4 linked regions of the Homo sapiens genome follow. The protein of the gene in region 2 interacts with the protein of the main gene of each other region in a pairwise test. Each region holds a gene or a part of one and is shown on either strand. Other genes may lie near its edges.

The links. The genes of interacting proteins can lie anywhere in the genome.
Region 1: the proteins of TULP3 (region 2) and RIOK3 interact in a two-hybrid assay, tested with the Homo sapiens proteins (one large-scale study listed by BioGRID and IntAct).
Region 3: the proteins of TULP3 (region 2) and CLIP4 interact in a two-hybrid assay, tested with the Homo sapiens proteins (one large-scale study listed by BioGRID and IntAct).
Region 4: the proteins of TULP3 (region 2) and NFE2L1 interact in a two-hybrid assay, tested with the Homo sapiens proteins (one large-scale study listed by BioGRID and IntAct).

Annotation. Positions count from the first base shown.
Region 1 is NC_000018.10:23,451,316-23,456,086, forward strand, and holds the start of RIOK3 (serine/threonine-protein kinase RIO3), read left to right. Parts: upstream 1-1,971; 5' UTR 1,972-2,124; coding exon 2,125-2,187; intron 2,188-4,771.
Region 2 is NC_000012.12:2,917,921-2,922,623, reverse strand, and holds part of TULP3 (tubby-related protein 3), read right to left. Parts: intron 1,862-4,703; coding exon 1,702-1,861; intron 363-1,701; coding exon 222-362; intron 1-221. UniProt on the Homo sapiens protein: Negative regulator of the Shh signaling transduction pathway: recruited to primary cilia via association with the IFT complex A (IFT-A) and is required for recruitment of G protein-coupled receptor GPR161 to cilia, a promoter of PKA-dependent basal repression machinery in Shh signaling.
Region 3 is NC_000002.12:29,138,814-29,142,914, forward strand, and holds part of CLIP4 (CAP-Gly domain-containing linker protein 4), read left to right. Parts: intron 1-4,101.
Region 4 is NC_000017.11:48,046,382-48,051,158, reverse strand, and holds the start of NFE2L1 (endoplasmic reticulum membrane sensor NFE2L1), read right to left. Parts: upstream 2,801-4,777; 5' UTR 2,697-2,800; intron 2,379-2,696; exon of another isoform or gene 2,295-2,378; intron 553-2,294; 5' UTR 41-552; coding exon 1-40.

The sequences.
Region 1 (4,771 bases), on a different chromosome or scaffold from region 2:
ATACAAAAATTAGCCGGGTGCAGTGGCACGCGCCTATAGTCCCACCTACTCGGAAGGCTGAGGCAGAAGAATCGCTTGAACCCACGAGGTGGAGGTTGCAGTGAGCCTTGATCATGCCACTGCACTCCAGCCTGGCGACAGAGCGAGACTCTATTTCAAAAGAAAAGAAAAGAAAAGAAAAGAAAAGAAAAGAAAAGAAAAGAAAAAAGTTAAAAAAAAAAAGATCTGACCTCTCTCCTTTACATTCAAAACAAAACAAAAAGAATATTCAGATTCTTAGTTTTATTTTCGACTTCCTGTCCTTTTCTGATATATCCCCCAAATAGTCTCTCACTGGCACATTTTTGTCATACACTGCATCTCAGCCTTAGCCTTTCTTTCTGGTCTGGTCTTTTCCTTTTAATCTTTTTTCTCTTTTTTTTTTTTGAGACGGAGTCTCACTCTGTTGCCCAGGTTGGAGTGCAGTGGCATGATCTTGGCTAATTGCAACCTCGGCCTCCCGAGGTCAAGTGATTCTCCTGCCTCAGCCTCCTGAGTAGCTGGGATTACAAGTGCGTGTCACCACACCCGGCTGCTTTTTGTATTTTTAGTAGAGATGGGGTTTCACCGTGTTGGCCAGGCTGGTCTCAAACTCCTGACCTCAGGTGATCCACCCACCTTGGCCTCCCAAAGTGCTGGGATTACAGGCATGACCCACCACGCCCAGCCCTCTCCTATTTTTTCCTAGCCAGAATTGAGAAGTCCATTTCTATTAATAGTTACACCCATTTTTCTTAAACTATTTATCGTCCAATTATAATCCTTTGAACACTAGGAAGGAACACAATTTCCACACACATTCACATATATAGGCAACATTTGCCAAGCACACATCTGCACCCTATCATATGGCTATAGTTTGCCTTATTGCAGTAGGGGTATTTGGAGGATTCAGAACATGTTTTCACCTGGAATGGAAAGGAGGCAAAGATTGTGTGCTAATGGAAATCATTAAGATCAGTAACCCAGGGCTCTCAAGTATGGACAGTTAGAGATACTGACTCGGAACTGAGATTTAGGGAAAACAGTTATTCAGTACCTATTTCTAGAATGTTTGAATATACAACATATAGACAGTGTATAGTTTATAGTCAAAATATAATGTACAGCCAGTCCAGTTCCCAAACCGATTGTCTGGGTTCACCCCTTATTAGCTTTGCCACTTGTTATCTGTGTGACCTCAACTAAATTACTTTACCTCTCTGTGCCTCAGTTTCAATATCAGTAAAATAGAGATAATGACAGAATTTAGCTCTCACGGTAATTTTGAGGACTAAAAAGTTAATGAAAGATTTGAACAGTGCATTGATATACTAAGTGAAATGCAATGTTTAGTTATCTTTTATCTGGTCATTTTATTAGAATCTCTACAAAATACAGAAACAAAAGTTTTATTATGCAGTCTTATTTTTGTTCACTGTTACGTAACACATTTTACACATTTTCCGCATTCCACGCCCCGCCCTTCAACAACAACCACCACAAACTCCGACCGTCCTTTCCAGGCCCTTTCCCTCTATAAACCTGCCGTTTTCTGTCTCCCAAGTCATCCCAGTTTAGAACTGCTCCAGGAAATAATGAATGAACAGAGAGAGCCTAGTTTGTTTATTTATTTACAATCCACTAGTCTAATCTAGTTTAGATCCAGCGGCAATTTTTGGGGTGCCAAGGAGGAAAGAAGGAGATGGCAGTGCGGGGACAGGGCAGAGCCTGGGCCAAAGGAAGCCACACCCAGTTCTTGCCCTGCCCTGCCCGACACAGGCAACGTGACCCCAAGCGACAGCCAGCTGATGCTTGCTTCTCCGAGCCCGGCGGTCAGCAGCCGGAAGTAGCCCGCCCGGGGGCGGGGAAAGGTGCCTTAAGGAGGAGCTAGGGGCGTGCGGCCAATTGCAAGCGACTGTCCTAGCGAAGAGGGCGGAAGAGGAGAGATCCAGTTCCGGACGCGGCCGCCGCCGTCGCCGCCATCTGTCACCTCCACTCCGGCATCAGCAGCCAGTCGCCCGTGTCCCGCCTGTCTCCTCGGCGGAGCCTGCTGCCCGTCCTGCCACCTCTCTGCTCTGTTCTTGTCTCTGCCTTCATTCCCGAATGGATCTGGTAGGAGTGGCATCGCCTGAGCCCGGGACGGCAGCGGCCTGGGGACCCAGCAAGGTAAGTGGCAGACGAGACTGGAGTACTAGCCTTGGTCACACGGGCTGGATCTCTCGGAAAGCTCGGAGAGGGCGGCTTCGTGGGCGATTCGGGAAGTTCTGGGGCGGGACCCCGCGGACCTCGGCAAGGGGGCACTGGCCGCGGGGGTGCCGGGATGGGGATGGAGGGAGCGGAAAGAGGGGCGGAGGGCGGCTGGATCTCCCAAAGGCCACCTTGAGTGGTTAGGGCTCTCTATTTCTTCAGCGTACTTTCTGTATCACCGTAGCATGTATTTGAGCAGGACTGGCTTACACACCCTGATGATACTGGAGGGGAAACAAGCACGATCTTGTTTTTCACTGGCCAAGTGAGTCAGCCGAATACACAGCTAGCCAGACAGAAAGTTGGTTTAGGAAGCTGTTTACTTAATTTGATAAGTGTGGTTATCCCAGTTTGGAAATGTCTTGTTTTTGAAGCAGTAAAAGATAAAACCCAGGCGCACCCTCCTCCCTCGACGCTGAAATTCAAGTGCGCACCACGGACTGTAAAGTGCTTATGAATTTCATTATCTGCCTAAGCTTTGACGTTTAAACTTTTTCATAGAGTGGCAAACTAAAGACCTTTATTTCACATTTGCTTTCTGGTTTCCAGGCAGGTCCTTTTCATGATACTTTGATTATATGGATGAAAACACTTTTCTGCCACTTTATGGAGGGTCTGCTTGAGAGCAGAGTGCTTCCATTGGGATTTTTTGTTCCACAAATTAAGGTCGTAAAGGAGTCTAGCTTTTTTAGCTTCATAGTTGTTCTTTACATGCTAACACAGAATATTTGTTCCCATTTAAAAGGTCTTATTAGATCTTCAGGCTAGGCCTTAACAGGAAAAGGGGTCAATAATTAGCTATTAAGTAACCAAAAGTTAATTTTGTAAAAGTTCTCGTACAGCTGTTGGAAGAATCTGAGATACTGCGTTGGCAAATGTGGTTAAGTCTGCATGTTATTTTGTGTATTTTTCCTTGAGACCTTGTTTACAAGGTCAAGATTAGCAGACATAAAAGGATGAAATCAGTAGACAGACTAGTATTATGAATATATACCCTGTATGTTAAAGTCCTTCAGTTAAGCATTGGCAGAGGCTGGTAAAAATGTCAAATGAGACAGACTCTATTCAGAATACATCCTAATCTCAGAACAAATTTCACTTACAAACTAATTCAGTAATAAACTATTTAACAGTCATATTTTTATTTAAGTGTACATCATCAGAACTATAAAATTCCATTTTCATTGTGCAACAAAAATGCTTCTGGGATTTATAGACGCTCTATTGGGAGGACAGTGTTTTGAAAGGCAAAACAATTAGAAACAGGCTGAAAGTACTATCATTAATCCTTTTTTTCTCTAACCTTTTGGAAAACCAAAGTGATTACAGAAGCCTACATGGAGGAGGTGAAGATTTGAGGAGGGTTTTGAAAAATGGAAGGATTCTCAAAACTTTTTAGTCAGGACTTCTTTCCTTCCTTCCTTCCTTCCTTTCCTTCCTTTCCTTTCCTTTCTTTCCTTCCTTTCTTTTCTTTCCTTTCTTTCCTTTTCATTTATTTATTTATTTGAGACGGAGTCTCGCCCTATCGCCCAGGCTGGAGTACAGTGGTTTGCTCCCAGCTCACTGCGACCTCTGCCTTCCGGGTTCAGGCAATTCTTGTGACTCAGCCTCCTGAGTAGCTGGGATTACAGGCGCCTGCCACCACGCCCAGCTGATTTTCGTATTTTTTTTTGTAGAGATGGGATTTCACCGTATTGGCCAGGCTGGTCTCAAACTCCGACCTCAAGTGTCCACCCGCCTCGGCCTCCCACACTGCTGGGATTACAGGCGTGAGCCACCATGCCCAACGTCTTTCTTTTTTTTTTTTTCTTTTTCTTTTTTTTTTTTGAGACGGAGTCTCGCTTTGTTGCCCAGGCTGTAGTGCAGTGGCGCGATCTCGGCTCACTGCAAGCTCCGCCTCCTGGGTTCAAGCGATTCTCCTGCCTCAGCCTCCCGAGTAGTGGGACCACAGGTGCCCACCACCACACCCGGCTAATTTTTTGTATTTTTAGTAGAGGCGGGGTTTCACCGTGTTAGCCAAGATGGTCTCGATCTCCTGACCTCGTGATCCGCCCACCTTGGCCTCTTTCTTTTTTAATTGAGACAGGGTCTCACTCTGTCACCCAGGCTGGAGTGCAGTGGCATGATCACATCTCACACTGTGCCTTGACCTTGCAGGCTCCCACCTCGGCCTCCTGATTAGCTGGACTACAGGCCAGTGCCACCACACCTAGCTAATTTTTGGGTTTTTTTTGAGACGGAGCCTCGCTCTGTCACCAGGCTGGAGAGCAGTGGCATGATCTCAGCTCACTGCAACCTCCGCCTCCTGGGTTCAAGCAATTCTTCTTCCTCAGCCTCCCAAGTAGCTGGGACTACAGGTGCATGCCACCATGCCCAGCTAATTTTTATATTTTTAGTAGAGATGGGGTTTCACCATGTTGGCCAGGATGGTCTCGATCTCTTGACATTGTGATCCTCCCACCTTGGCCTCCCAAAGTGCTGGGATTACAGGTGTGAGCCACCG
Region 2 (4,703 bases):
TATTTAATTATCTTCTTTTTCTCAGGCAACAGTATAAATACTACCATTGCTGACAATTACCAACATTCAGATGTAAAAGATGCTAAACACTGTCACCTCTGTGAGGCCCTAAGCCATGAGTCATTTTCAGTCATGTAGATTGTTACCCACAATGAAAAGAAAGGAAAAGATTACAATTGAGTAAGGAGACAAATTGCCTTAAAATCATTACCAGTCCTCACCATGCTTTTGGAGACGCTCCTGAAGTCCTGGCTTGGAAGCAGTATCCACGGTGTTTTCAGCATCTTCTTCCACAACAGAGGAGCTTACTGATGGAGCATGAACTTCGTCTGGTTTCAGGACAGCAGCTGGACCATCAATACCTAAGGGCCAAAATAAAATGAATTTTAAAAAAGGAGCAAAGTATTATTCACTAGTTGGGTAGATTTGGCATATGTGATCAGAATTAAGAACTACCAAATCATTTTATCTGCCCTCCTTTCTTAACATCCATAAGAACATTTGTTAAGAGAGAAGGTCAGAACTGGTGTTCTTTTTTTCTGAGACAGGATCTCACTCTGTCACCCAGGCTGGAGAGCAGTGGTGTAATCACAGCTCACTGTAGCCTCGACTTCCTAGGCTCAAACGATCCTCCCACTTCAGTCCCCCGAGTAGCTGGGACTACAGGTGTGTGCTACTACACCTGGCTAATTGTTAATTTTTTTGTAGAGATGGAGTCTTGTTATGTTGCCCAGGCTAGTCTCAAACACCTGGCCTTAAGTGATCTGCCTTTCTGGCCTCCCAAAGTGCTGGGATCACAGGTATAAGCCACCACGCCCAGCCTGGTGTTCATTTTATTAACATGCTCTGTTACTAAAGTCATATGTACTTGTACTTCAGTAACTGAAGTAATATGTACTTCAGAAACTTAAGAATGAGACCAAGAAAACAAAGTAGGTCCTCCATAGTACAGATCCTGTACAAGCCAATAGCTCCAGTGGCTTGATTTAGAGGCACTTACAATCTTATTCTTCCTCCGCCCCTCCCCATCTCAGATGATCCTTTCAACTATCTGTTGGAAGAATGGACGCTCTCTACCTATTCCCGGCTTCATGATTCACCTCTGCCACGATTTAACAATCAAGAGCTCCTCAAATAGGTCATTCTAAACTCATTCATCTGGCATCTAGAAAACAACAGTTCTTGCCGGGCATGGTGGCTCAAGCCTGTAATCCCAGCACTTTGGGAGGCCAAGGCGGGTGGATCACCTGGGTCAGGAGTTCGAGACAAGCCTGGCCAACATAGTAAAACCCCGTCTCTACTAAAAGTATAAAAAAATTAGCCGGGCATGGTGGCAGGCGCCTGTAAACCCAGCTACTCGGGAAGTTGAGGCAGGAGAATCACTTGAACCTGGGAGGAGGAGGTTGGCAGTGAGCCAAGATCGCGCCATTGCACTCCAGCCTGGGCGACAAAAGCAAAACTCCGTCTCAAAAAAAAGAAAACAACAGTTCTAAAATGGACGCAAACCTTAAGGCATCTTCCACTGATTATATCATTGCTTTTATTCTCCTCAAAGACCCCAAATGTGATTATAAAGATTTATGAAGGTACCTAGTAATGGTGCTAATAATATTGTCCCTTTGGTCCGTCTGACAATCCTCGTGCCTTCTAGGTTTGTGAAAATTGTACCCCACTAGGAAGTGATGCTGCCTAAATACACACCATGTAAGATGACATTGCTGTGGGGAGTATGACAGTTCACCAAGGGAGTCTGCTCATCACTGGCCCTTGGCTTTGCCCGACGTAGCCTGGCTTCTGGATTGGGCTGCACCATAAATGGCTCAAGGCGCTTTTTCCTTTGCCTCTTCTCAAGTAGTAGCCTCTGGGAAAAAAGCGATATGACAGCCAGCAAGGAGAGTTTTGACATGACCTAACCATTTCCAACATGCCCAGTTTGTTTTTCACTGATCCTCACAAAACATCTTGTAAATTATTTTTTCCCCATTTAAGAAATGGGAAAACTGAGGCACAGAGAGGAGTAAGGATTCAATCATTTCATTTAACAAATACTTTTGAACACCTAACACCTATAAAGATCTATTTAAAATCAGATGATGCTTTTTTTTTTCTTTTTTTTGAGACAGAGTCTCACTCAGTTGCCCAGGCTGAGTGCAGTGGCACCATCACAGCTCACTGCAGCCTTGACCTCCAAGGCACGCCCAATCCTTCTGCCTCAGCCTCCTGAAGAGCTGGGACTACAGGTGTGTGCTACCATGCCCAGCTATTTTTTGTATTTTTGTAGAGACAGGGTTTCCCGACATTGCCCAGGCTGGTCTCAAACTCCTGAGCTCAAGCAGTCTGCTTGCCTTGGCCTCCCAAAGTGTTGGGATTACAGGCGTGAGCCACTGCACCTGTCCCACACAGTGCATTTGTAACCAAGTCTACTAAAGATGTATGGGAATCATCATAGCATTATCAAATGTGACCACAAGCTCAAAACATACAAACACACATGCACGGAGGACAGATGGAGGAACACAGCAAGGGTGGTTTCTTCAGGTGGCAGACTATGGCATGATTGTTTTCTCTTTTCTAGTCTTTTTTTTTTTTTAAGTTTTCTTACTTTTGTAAATGGAAGAAAAAAACTTTATTATTCTCTAAAACTCAAATTATTTCCATGTTCTAATTAGTCAAAGGGCAGTAAGTTTGGCATTCTTGTTTATCTTATATAATTAGAAATCAAATTTGGATCAAGGGTGAGAAGAAAAAAATGGCAGTTGGAACATATCAAATAGAAAGCAGTCAACTCTATGAATAAAAGCAAGATAAAGACTATGGTAGCAAGAAAAGTCAGGAAACAAGCATGACAGACTATGAGAAAAAAAAACCAATGAAATGGAAAGGAAGGTACTAGCACATAGTACTAGTACCTTTTGGCAAATAAGGGTTTATAATATATAGAAATTATTATTGATCTGGGATAACTCAGAGTAGGAAAAATGTTAAGCCCCATGCTAAAAAATAAAGACATGATTAAAAAACAAATATATTATAACCCACTTACTACTGTTTTTCAGGCAAAAGAAGCCATCTGTTTACTTTTTTCCATCGATACTGTTTTAGAAAAGTGCCTCCAGGAAGAAGAGTCACTCCAAGGGGTGAGACTATCAAAAAAGGAAGTGTGTTTTTCCTGAACTGGGCTGATGAGAGCACACTGATTAATTCAATAGCTTGCATATAGAGGGAAAAGATTGGGGAGTTAAGATAACGTGCCAATACAGAATATACCATCAAGAATGAATAGGTGTTAGAGCAAGGACTAAGTTGTTTGGAGATTATTTTGAGATTTCATGAATTACCATGAATAGAAGGACATTAACCCAGGAACACTAAATACACAGGAGGCTATAATGACTTCCACCAAACAGAATTGGCCACTGAGATTCTTCTAGCAGCCGGGCGCAGTGGCTCACGCCTGTAATCCCAACACTTTGGGAGGCAGAGTCAGGTGGATCACTTGAGGTCAGGAGTTTGAGACCACCCTGGCCAACATGGTGAAACCCCGTCTCTATGAAAAATACAAAAATTGGCCTGCGTCATGGCGCATGCCTGTAATCCCAGCTACTCAGGAGGCTGAGGCAGGAGAATCACTTGAACCCAGGAGGTAGAGGTTGTGGTGAGCTGAGATCATGCCACTACACTCCAGCCTGGGTGACAGAGCAAGACTCGAGACTCTGTCTCAAAAAAAAAAAAAATTCTTCTAGCAACCAAGAGGTCTTGTATAATGGATAAAAAGTAACTTGCTGGCCGGGCACAGTGGCTCATGCCTGTAATCCCAGCACTTTGGGAGGCTGAGGCGGACGGATCACCTGAGGTCGGGAGTTCAAAGCCAGCCTGACCAACATGGAGAAACCCCGTCTCTACTAAAAACACAAAAATTAGCCGGATGTGGCGGCGCATGCCTGTAATCCCAGCTACTCGGAGGCTGAGGCGGGAGAATCGCTTGAGCCTGGGAGGCGGAGGTTGCGGCGAGCTGAGATTATGCCCCTGCACTCCAGCCTGTGCAACAACAGCAAAACTCCATTTCAAAAAAAAAAGTAACTTGCCTGAAAAGGTGGTAAATATGAAGTACTGAAATCATAAGAAACTGCCATATCTTATCTATGTGGCCACAGCTATTTCATCTCATACATAGTCTGTGAAATGATCGATGAAACAAAATCACATACTGTAGGCTGGGCGCGGTGGCTCACGCCTGTAATCCCAGCAGTTTGGGAGGTCGAGGTGGGCGGATTACCTGAGGTCAGGAGTTTGAGACCAGCCGGGCCAACATGGTGAAACCCCGTCTCTATTAAAAAATAAAATTAGCCAGGCGTGGTGGCAAGCGCCTGTAATCCCGGCTACTTGGGAGGCTGAGGCAGGAGAATCACTTGAACCTGGGAGGCAGAGGTTGCCGTGAGCCGAGATTGGACCACTACACTCCAGCCTGGGCGACAGAGCGAGACTGTCTCAAAACAAAAACAAAAACAAAAATGAATGCTGTAGCTATTTTTTGAGACGGAGTTTCACTCTTGCTGCCCAGGCTGGAGTGCAATGGTGCAACCTCAACTCACTTGCAATCTCTGCCTCCTGGGTTCAAGCAATTCTCCTGACTCAGCCTCCGGAGTAGCTAGGATAACAGGCACCTGCCACCACACCCAGCTAATTTTTTTTGTATTTTTAGT
Region 3 (4,101 bases), on a different chromosome or scaffold from region 2:
TATAGAAATGCTACTGATTTTCGTATATTGATTTTGTGTCCTGAAACTTTACTGAAGTTGTTTATCAGGTCTAGGAGGTTTTTTTTGGCAGAACCTTTAGAATTTTCTACATATCGAACCATATTGTTGGTGAAGAGAGGTAATTTGACCTCCTCTTTTCCTATTTGGGTGCCTTTTATTTCTTTTTCTTGCCTAATTACTCTGGCTAGGACTTCCAGTACTATGTTGAATAGGCGTAGTGACAGTGGACATTCTTGTTTTGTTCCAATTCTCAGGAGGAATGTTTCCAACTTGCCCGTTCAGTATGATGTTGGCTGTGGGTTTGTCATAGATGGCTCTTAGTATTTTGAGGTATGTTCCTTCAATGCCTAATTTGTTGAAGGTTTTTTTTTTTTATCATGAAGGGGTGTTGGAATTTATTGATTGCTTTTTCTGTGTCTATTGAGATGATCCTACAGTTTTTAATTTTGTTTATGTGGTGAATCACGTTTATTGACTTGCATACGTTGAACCTCCTTGCATGACTTGATCACGGTGAATTATCTTTTTGGTATGCTGCTGAATTTGGTTTGCTAGTAACTTGAGGTTTTCTGTGTCTGTGTTTATCAGGGATATTGGCCTGTAGTTTTCTTTTTTGTTGTGTCTTTGCCAGATTTTGGTATCAAGATGATACTGCTTTCATAGAATGAATTAGGGAGAAATCCCTCCTCCTTGGTTTTTTCATATCATTTTGGTAGGATTGTTATCAGCTCCTCCTCGTATGTTTGGTAGAATTTGGCTGTGAATCCATTCGGTCCAGGGCTTTTTCTGGATGGTAGGTTTTTTATTACTGATTCAATTTTGTAACTAATTATTGGTGTGTTCAGGGTTTCACTTTCTTCCTGGTTCTTGGAAGGTTGTGTGTTTCTAGGAATTTAGATTCCTAGATTTTCTAGATTTCCTCTAGATTTTCTAGTTTATGTGAATAGAGGTATTCACAGTAGTTGCTGAGGATCTTTTACATTTCTGTGGGATTGTTGTAATGTCATATTTATCATTTCCAATTGTGCTTATTTGGATCTTTCTTTTTTCTTTAGCTAGCAGTCTGTCAATCTTATTGTTTCAAAGAACCATCTTTTCATTTTGCTGATCCTTTGAATGCCTTTTTTGGTTTCAGTTTCATATAGTTGTACTCCAATTTTAGTTATTTTTTTGACTAGCTTTGGGTTTAGTTTGTTCTTATTTATTTTTTTAACGTGTTTTTATTTATTTATTTTTATTTTTTATTTTGTTTCTTTTATTATACTTTAAGTTTTAGGGTACTTGTGCACAATGTGCAGGTTAGTTACATATGTATACATGTGCCATGATGGTGTGCTGCACCCATTAACTCGTCGTTTAGCATTAGGTATATCTCCTAAAGCTATCCCTCCCCTCTCCTCCCGCCCCACAACAGTCCCCAGAGTGTGATGTTCCCCTTCCTGTGTCCATGTGTTCTCATTGTTCAATTCCCACCTATGAGTGAGAATATGCGGTGTTTGGTTTTTTGTCCTTGCGATAGTTTACTGAGAATGATGATTTCCAATTTCATCCATGTCCCTACAAAGGACATGAACTCATCATTTTTTATGGCTGCATAGTATTCCATGGTGTGTATGTGCCACATTTTCTTAATCCAGTCTATCATTGTCAGACATTTGGGTTGGTTCCAAGTCTTTGCTATTGTGAATAGTGCTGCAATAAACATATGTGTGCATGTGTCTTTATAGCAGCATGATTTATAGTCCTTTGGGTATATACCCATTAATGGGATGGCTGGGTCAAATGGTATTTCTAGTTCTAGATCCCTGAGGAATCGCCACACTGACTTCCACAATGGTTGAACTAGTTTACAGTCCCACCAACAGTGTAAAAGTGTTCCTGTTTCTCCACATCCTCTCCAGCACCTGTTGTTTCCTGACATTTTAATGATCGCCATTCTAACAGGTGTGAGATGGTATCTCATTGTGGTTTTGATTTGCATTTCTCTGATAGCCAGTGATGGTGAGCATTTTTTCATGTGTTTTTTGGCTGCATAAATGTCTTCTTTTGAGGAGTGTCTGTTCTTATTTTTCTAGTTCCCTTAGGTGCAATGTTAGGTTGTTGAGACCTCCCTGTCTTCTTGATACAGGCGTTTTGTACTTTACTCTTAACACTGCTTTTGCTACATCCCAGAGGTTTTGGTATATTGTGTCTCTATTTTCATTTGTTTCAAAGGATTTTTTTTGAATTCTGCCTTAATTTCATTGTTTACCCAAAAGTCATTCTGGAGCAAGTTTTCTAGTTTGCATGTATTTGTGTGGTTTTCAAGAGCTCTTCTTGGTATTGATTTCTATTTTTACTCCACGGTGGTCCAAGAGATTCTTGGTGTGATTTTGATTTTTTTGAATTTGTTGAGACTTGCTTTATGACCATGGTCAATCTTTGAGTATGTTCCATGTGCAAATGAGAATAGCATTTATATTCTGTGGTTGTTGGGTGGAGTATTCTTTAGATGCCTATTAAGTCTAACTGGTCAAGTGCTGTATTTAAGTCCAAAATTTCTCTGTTAGTTTTCTGCCTTGATCTGTCTAATGCTTTCAGTGGGGTGTTGAAGTCACCCACTATTATTGTGTGACTATCTACATCTTTTTGTAAGTCTAGTAGTAATTGCTTTATAAATTTGGGTGCTCCAGTGTTGGGTGTGTGTATATTTAGGATAGTTAAGTCTTCTTGTTGAATTGAACACTTTATCATTATGTAATGCCCTACTTTGTCCCTCTTGACTGTTGTTGGCTTAAAGTATGTTTAATAGTGATCATCTGCTCCTTTTTGTTTTCCATTTGCATGATAGATCTCTCTCCAGCCTTTTACTTTGAGCCTATGGGTGTCATTACCTGTGCAATAGGTATCTTGAAGACAGCAGAAGGACAAGTCTTCTTTTTTTTTAATCCGATTTCCCACTCTATGTCTTTTGAGTGCTGTGTTTAGGCTGTTTATTTTCAGGGTTAATATTGATATGTGAAGTTGAGCTCCTGTTTCATGTTAGCTAGTTGCTTTGTAGCCTTGATTGTGTAGTTGCTTTTATGGAGTCTATAGACTATGTGCTTATGTATGCTTTTGTGACAGCAAGTATTATTTTTTTGTTTTCATGTTTAGAACTCTCTTAATCATCTTTTATTAACCTTTTTCAGGGTTAATATAGAAATGTGAAGTTTTGTTCCTGTTGTCGTGTTGTTAGCTAGTTGCCTCCTAGTCTCAATTGTATAGTTGCTTTATGAAGAACATAGACTATGTGCTTAAGTATGCTTTTGTGGTAGCAAGTTTTATTCTTTTGTTTCCATGTGTAGAACTCCCTTAATCGTCTTTTATAGGTCCAGTCTGGTGGTATGCCACCACTTTAGAAGAAAGTGGAATTCCACAATTGATCATGAATAAGCCTTCTTGTCTTAGGAAGATATCGTCATTGTTATTTTATTATTCTTACTATTATTTAGGTTTTTTTTTTTTAACAGAAGTTTCGATTGTTGAATTGTATGGGAATTAACAGAAGTGTGTGACAGGTTCCAAAAAGTGGGGATATAACAAAAGTCCAAAGTAAAATATTCACTGTAAGCATAGCTTACAACTTAGCCTGGGTGTATTTTAAAAATTTTTATGTTTCCCTATTTTTCTCTCTCTGTTTTTTAGAGAGTATACATTAGTGTAACACATATCTTTATTGTATTTTGTATGTTTTCTTGAAATCTGGGATTAGAAGAGTCCATTACCATCCTAGACATCTAATAACATATCTTCTTGCCATATTTCTACTAAGGACCAACCTGACTTGAATTTTAAAACAAAAAAATGCGAAGCAATTGCAAACTAAGTGTGTTCTAAAAGCCTCGTTCATTTTTCCATGTGAATCATTTGAAGAAGATTGTATCAGTGAAGAAAGGGAAAAAAGTTTCTCAGTTAACAAAAGTATCTTTATTCTTTATATTAAAAGAAGATTACAATCTAAATTATTTCTCATGAAGTCTAAGGTTTTTGGTTAGGGAATGTAAGATGACAGATAATTCATATGATAGGGCTTTTATGATACATATACCATGCAAATGA
Region 4 (4,777 bases), on a different chromosome or scaffold from region 2:
GGAGAAGTCCTTCCGTTAAGTATTTCTTCAGAGAAAGCATTGCTGAAGGACCAGAATGTTTATGCTTTTTGGTTTTTAAAATCTTCCAAAAGACAAATCAAGGCCACTGCTCTGCCGCTCCAGCCAGCAGGTTACCCTCCTCAGTGTCAAACCCCGTACCCCACCCTGGCAGAACACAAGGGATGAGCTCCCTGACGGCCCCAGAGGAAAGCACACCCTGTGGAGCCAAGGCCAAGGACACACTCCAGACCACATTCACTTTCCCTTCTCGACACCTCACCTCTGAAAGTACAACTGTTCCTAACCCAGTCCAGGTCCTCAAGGGCCCACGTGACTTACTTTCTCCACAGTCCACATACAGTCACTTCCTCACTCACATTAGTTGTCCTCTCTGTAGATTCCAATGCAGGCTGTTCTCAGGAACAGCTGATGGATTTTTTTTTTCCTTCTCCCTCCTAAGGTTTATTTTCTTTGGCTGGAGCTACAGGCCTTTCGTCTTGGGTCAGAGTGTCCCGCCTCCTCCACACTTACCAGGGGGGTTTCCAGAGAAACCTGAAATGGGAATCACAAAAGCAACAGGATAAGATTCCATACTTTTCACATCATGATCAGGGTAGGAAAACCTTCACAGTAGAAGGTAGAAAACACATTCAAAGGACACTTTCACTTTTTTTTTTTTTGAGACAGAGTCTCACTCTGTCGCCCAGGCTAGAGTGCAGTGGCGTGATCTGTGCTCACTGCAACCTCCACCTTCTGCATTCAAGCGATTCTCCTGCCTCAGCCTCCCAAGTATCTGGGATTACAGGCGCCTGCCACCACGCCCTGCTAATTTTTGTATTTTTAGTAGAGATGGGGTTTCACTATGTTGGCCAGGCTGGTCTCAAGCTCCTGACCTCAGGTGATCTGCCCGCCTCGGCCCCCCAAAGTGCTGGGATCACAGGCGTGAGCCACTGTGCCTGGCCTAAAGGCCACTTTTACAGGAAGAAAGGACTACTTACACTCTCAGAAAAAAAACCCAAAATATAGCAACCGATCATAGAAGAACTATCAAAGAAAGCTACTGATCACGAATGATCTCAGTTACTGAATATTAAATGTGCAATATCCTAAAATGTAGCTTGGTTTGAATAAGCAGACAATAACCAGGTCATCCAAAATATCTTACACCTTTGTTTTATTTACCAGCCCTCCTCCCCCACTACAGGCGCATTACCCAGCTTCTATTTTCACATGAGAAGCCCATTTCCTGTCTTAAAAGTAAAGCTGGATTTTCACCCCTCGGGAGAAAACCACCCATAACAGTTGTCTTTTCTCAGTTCAAAAAGGCAAGATTATTAAACAGTGAGAGTGTGGAAGGACAAAAGGACAATGTTCAGGCCACCACTTCACCCAGAAGAAGAATGCCTTTTGTTTTCTGAACTTTGAAATCTGATTTCCCTTTCCTATCCTCACAACTTACAAAAGAAAAAAAAGGAAAAGGGCCGACGCCTGTAATCCCAGCACTTCGGGAGGCCGAGGAGGGCGGATCACCCGAGGTCGGGAGTTTGAGACCAGCCTGAACAACATGGAGAAACCCCATCTCAACTAAAAATACAAAAATTAGCCGGGCGTGGTGGCGCATGCCTGTAATCCCAGCTACTCGGGAGGCTGAGACAGGAGAATCGCTTGAACCCAGGAAACGGAGGTTGTGGTGGGCCGATATCGCGCCACTGCACTCCAGCCTGGGCAACAAGAGCAAAACTCCGTCTCAAAAAAAGAAAAAAAAGAAAGAAAAGAAAAGGAAAGAAAAAAAGGAGAGGGATGGTGGGGGCCCTACTACGCAGGACTATTCCGTCCAGAATTTGCATAGGCAGGTTTTATTTTCATTCATATGACCTTCTGAGCCAAAGCAGAAGGATATGGCCACGTTCTCTAGCCAGACTGCCCAGTGCAGAGGAAGTAAATCTGTTTCTGGTCTCCACTTTTGAGCTTCCATTAATGTCACAAACCAAGACATACCGCCTCTCCTCTCCTGCGTTGTGACCCATCTACCAACTTCATTCTACAGGGGGAGAGCGAGCTATACGTACACACACGAACGTGCGCACACACACACACTCACACTCCCTCTCTCTGGTCAGAGTAAACACAATTGCGACCCAGAATTCCTGCTTACGCTACCCTCCCGTTCTCACGCAATTTATTACTAAAACCTCCCAGGAGCCAATTAAGTTCGAGGAACCGGACAAAGTCCCTTAAAAATCAAGTAGGTGCAGGGCCCATAGCCTGAGGCTGGTCCCACCCTGCCCGGATACCCGAGTCCGGCTGAGACCAAGTCGCCATGCCCACTCTCGGCGCCGGAGCTTCTAGCCTCCAGGGGCGGCCAGCGAACAAGTGCTACTTCCCTGGCCTTGACCCACCCTTACAGCAAACCCCACCCCGCCCTCCGTCCCGATGGCCCCACCCCACTCCCAAGTCCAGGCCTCACACCACGCCTTCTCGTGCCCTCAACCCTGCCCAGTCCATCCCACCCCGGAGCCAGCTTTCCTCTCGGCCCCGCGCGGGGCCCCTCCCTGTCAGGCCCAGGGCCGGGCTCTGGCGGGAACCCCGCTCGGCCCCCGCCTCCTGCACCTCAGCACCATCCCGTCGCCCCATAAGCCTCGGCCCCGCGGCGCTGCAACCCTCCCTTCTGGGAAAGGAATGTGCCCGATACCCACTGCTTAGCTCGGCGTCCGCCGCTGCCTCCACAGCAGGCCCTAAGCCCGAGTCCCGGCCTCGCCGCCGCCACCGCCGGCCGGCCTAGAGCTCGGAGCCTCCGCTTACCTCCCCGCCCCCTCCTGCTACCGCACTCGGAAACCCGCCCGCCGCAAACACCCTAGGAACAGTTTCTCCAATCAACGAGCCGAGGCCGGGGCCGTCGACGGATGTCCCTCTGATTGGCAGCAGAGAGGGCCCAATGGCTGAGTGTACCTCCTCATCCCCGGACCTGATTTCCCAAGACTGACATAATTCCCGGCCCAATGAGTACCTAGGCCCGCCCCGCGGTATGGACCCACCAATGAGGAGGGCGAAGGCCCTAGTGTCTGGCATTCTGGGCCCCTCGGCCGCGCCTTCGCGGCGGGCGATGTTAGTGGGCTTGGGCGTTGGGTGAAGTATCCAGGTTGGGCGCTTCCAGCGCTTTCTGTGGCGGGGGAATGAAGGCCTAGGTCAGGGAATAGGAAGGTGTATCGCCGCCAGAGTGCGGAACACCCTCGCCTTGAGGGTTCCCACAGTGACTTGCAAAAGTCTAGTGAGACCCGAGAATGCTGAGGCGGGACACGAAGCATGTGGTTCTTGTGGTTGCGACGCTCGTGCCGCCATCTTGGGTGCTGGCGGCGGAAACCGGTACCCCAACTTCCCCTCGGTGCGAACCTGGAGAAGCCACCCCAGCTGTGAGGGACGGTTGCGCCTCATGGCCCAGGCAAGGGTACCTTCGCTGGAGCAGTACCGCGGACGGATATCATGAGGGTGGTGGGACGTTGGCGGAACGTTGGCGGAACGTTGGCGGTGTGAGAGGTGTGGGGTAATGGCGATTTTTGTCATGGTAGAAACAGCCCAAAGGACCCCCCTCGTTTGGCCTCCCACGCAGCTTAGTCTTGCTTTTTTAGGGATGTTTCTCATTTTTTAATTTCTCCAGTCCCATCTGGTTATATTGCCAAAACATGTTTGTGACTCTCAAACGTTAGTTTACTCCCAGCATCACTTGGGGAGCTTGCTAAGCTACGAATTCCGAGGTCCCACTGGAGAGTCTGATTTAATGACCCTGGAGTGGCGGCCGGATAACCTGCCTGCTGGGGTGATTTTAACGCAGCTGATGCGAAGACCCCATTTAGGGAATCATTGGGTTGGCGTTTGCAATGCGTTCCTCCCAGCTATAGGACAAAGAGGTGTCAACTCAACTGTGTCTTCTTAGAAGAGCCCATTATTTATAGGTGAGTCATTAGTCCCTGTACAACTAAGGACAAGGCCAACTGATAACTCAGTAAATAATCGAGTCCATTTTGTGCTTGCGAGTTAGGGGCTTAATTTGGGGTGGTTTGCAGATTAAGTACTTTCACTGCATATAATAAACGTACACCAGCAAACCACTCATGGAATTCTTAAAAAAACTTCTGAGCTAGTTTACCAGTTTCAAAGACTAATTCAGAGAGCATGTTTTACCTATTCTAGGCTGGACTGGAACTCCTGGACTCAAGCGATCTTTCCATTTATCAGGGACTACTGACGCGTGTCTCCCAATAAATACCTGAGTATAAACAACATGAGGACTAGAATTTTGTGCGTTAACTGTTATAACTTAGTAGACACTCAAATACTGAGTACTTGAAGGGGGACTCAAGCAGGCAGGCCTCTGATTTTCCTGTTAAAAGCAGAAATTAACCACACCTTGGAGGATGTACAGTTTTGAAGGATATGGCATGTTAACAATAAAATAGGAGACCATTCAGTCCCCGAAGTAGTGAGACAATGAAGATAAAGACTGGTATTGTATAAGAAAGGAGGAATATTTAGGTGTGGCCATCAACTCTAAAAATAAATAAGGTTGAGAAGGAAGTATTTTAAACATAGAACTGGGCCCGGCGCAGTGGCTCACAGTAGCACCTTGGGAGGCCGAGGCGGGAGGATTGCTTGACCAGCCTGGGCAGCATAGTGAGACCCCCGTCGCTACAAAAAAACAAGCTGGGCTTGGTGCCACACATCTATAGTCCCAACTACTCAGGAGGCTGAGGTGGGAGGATTTCTTGAGCTGGGAGATTGA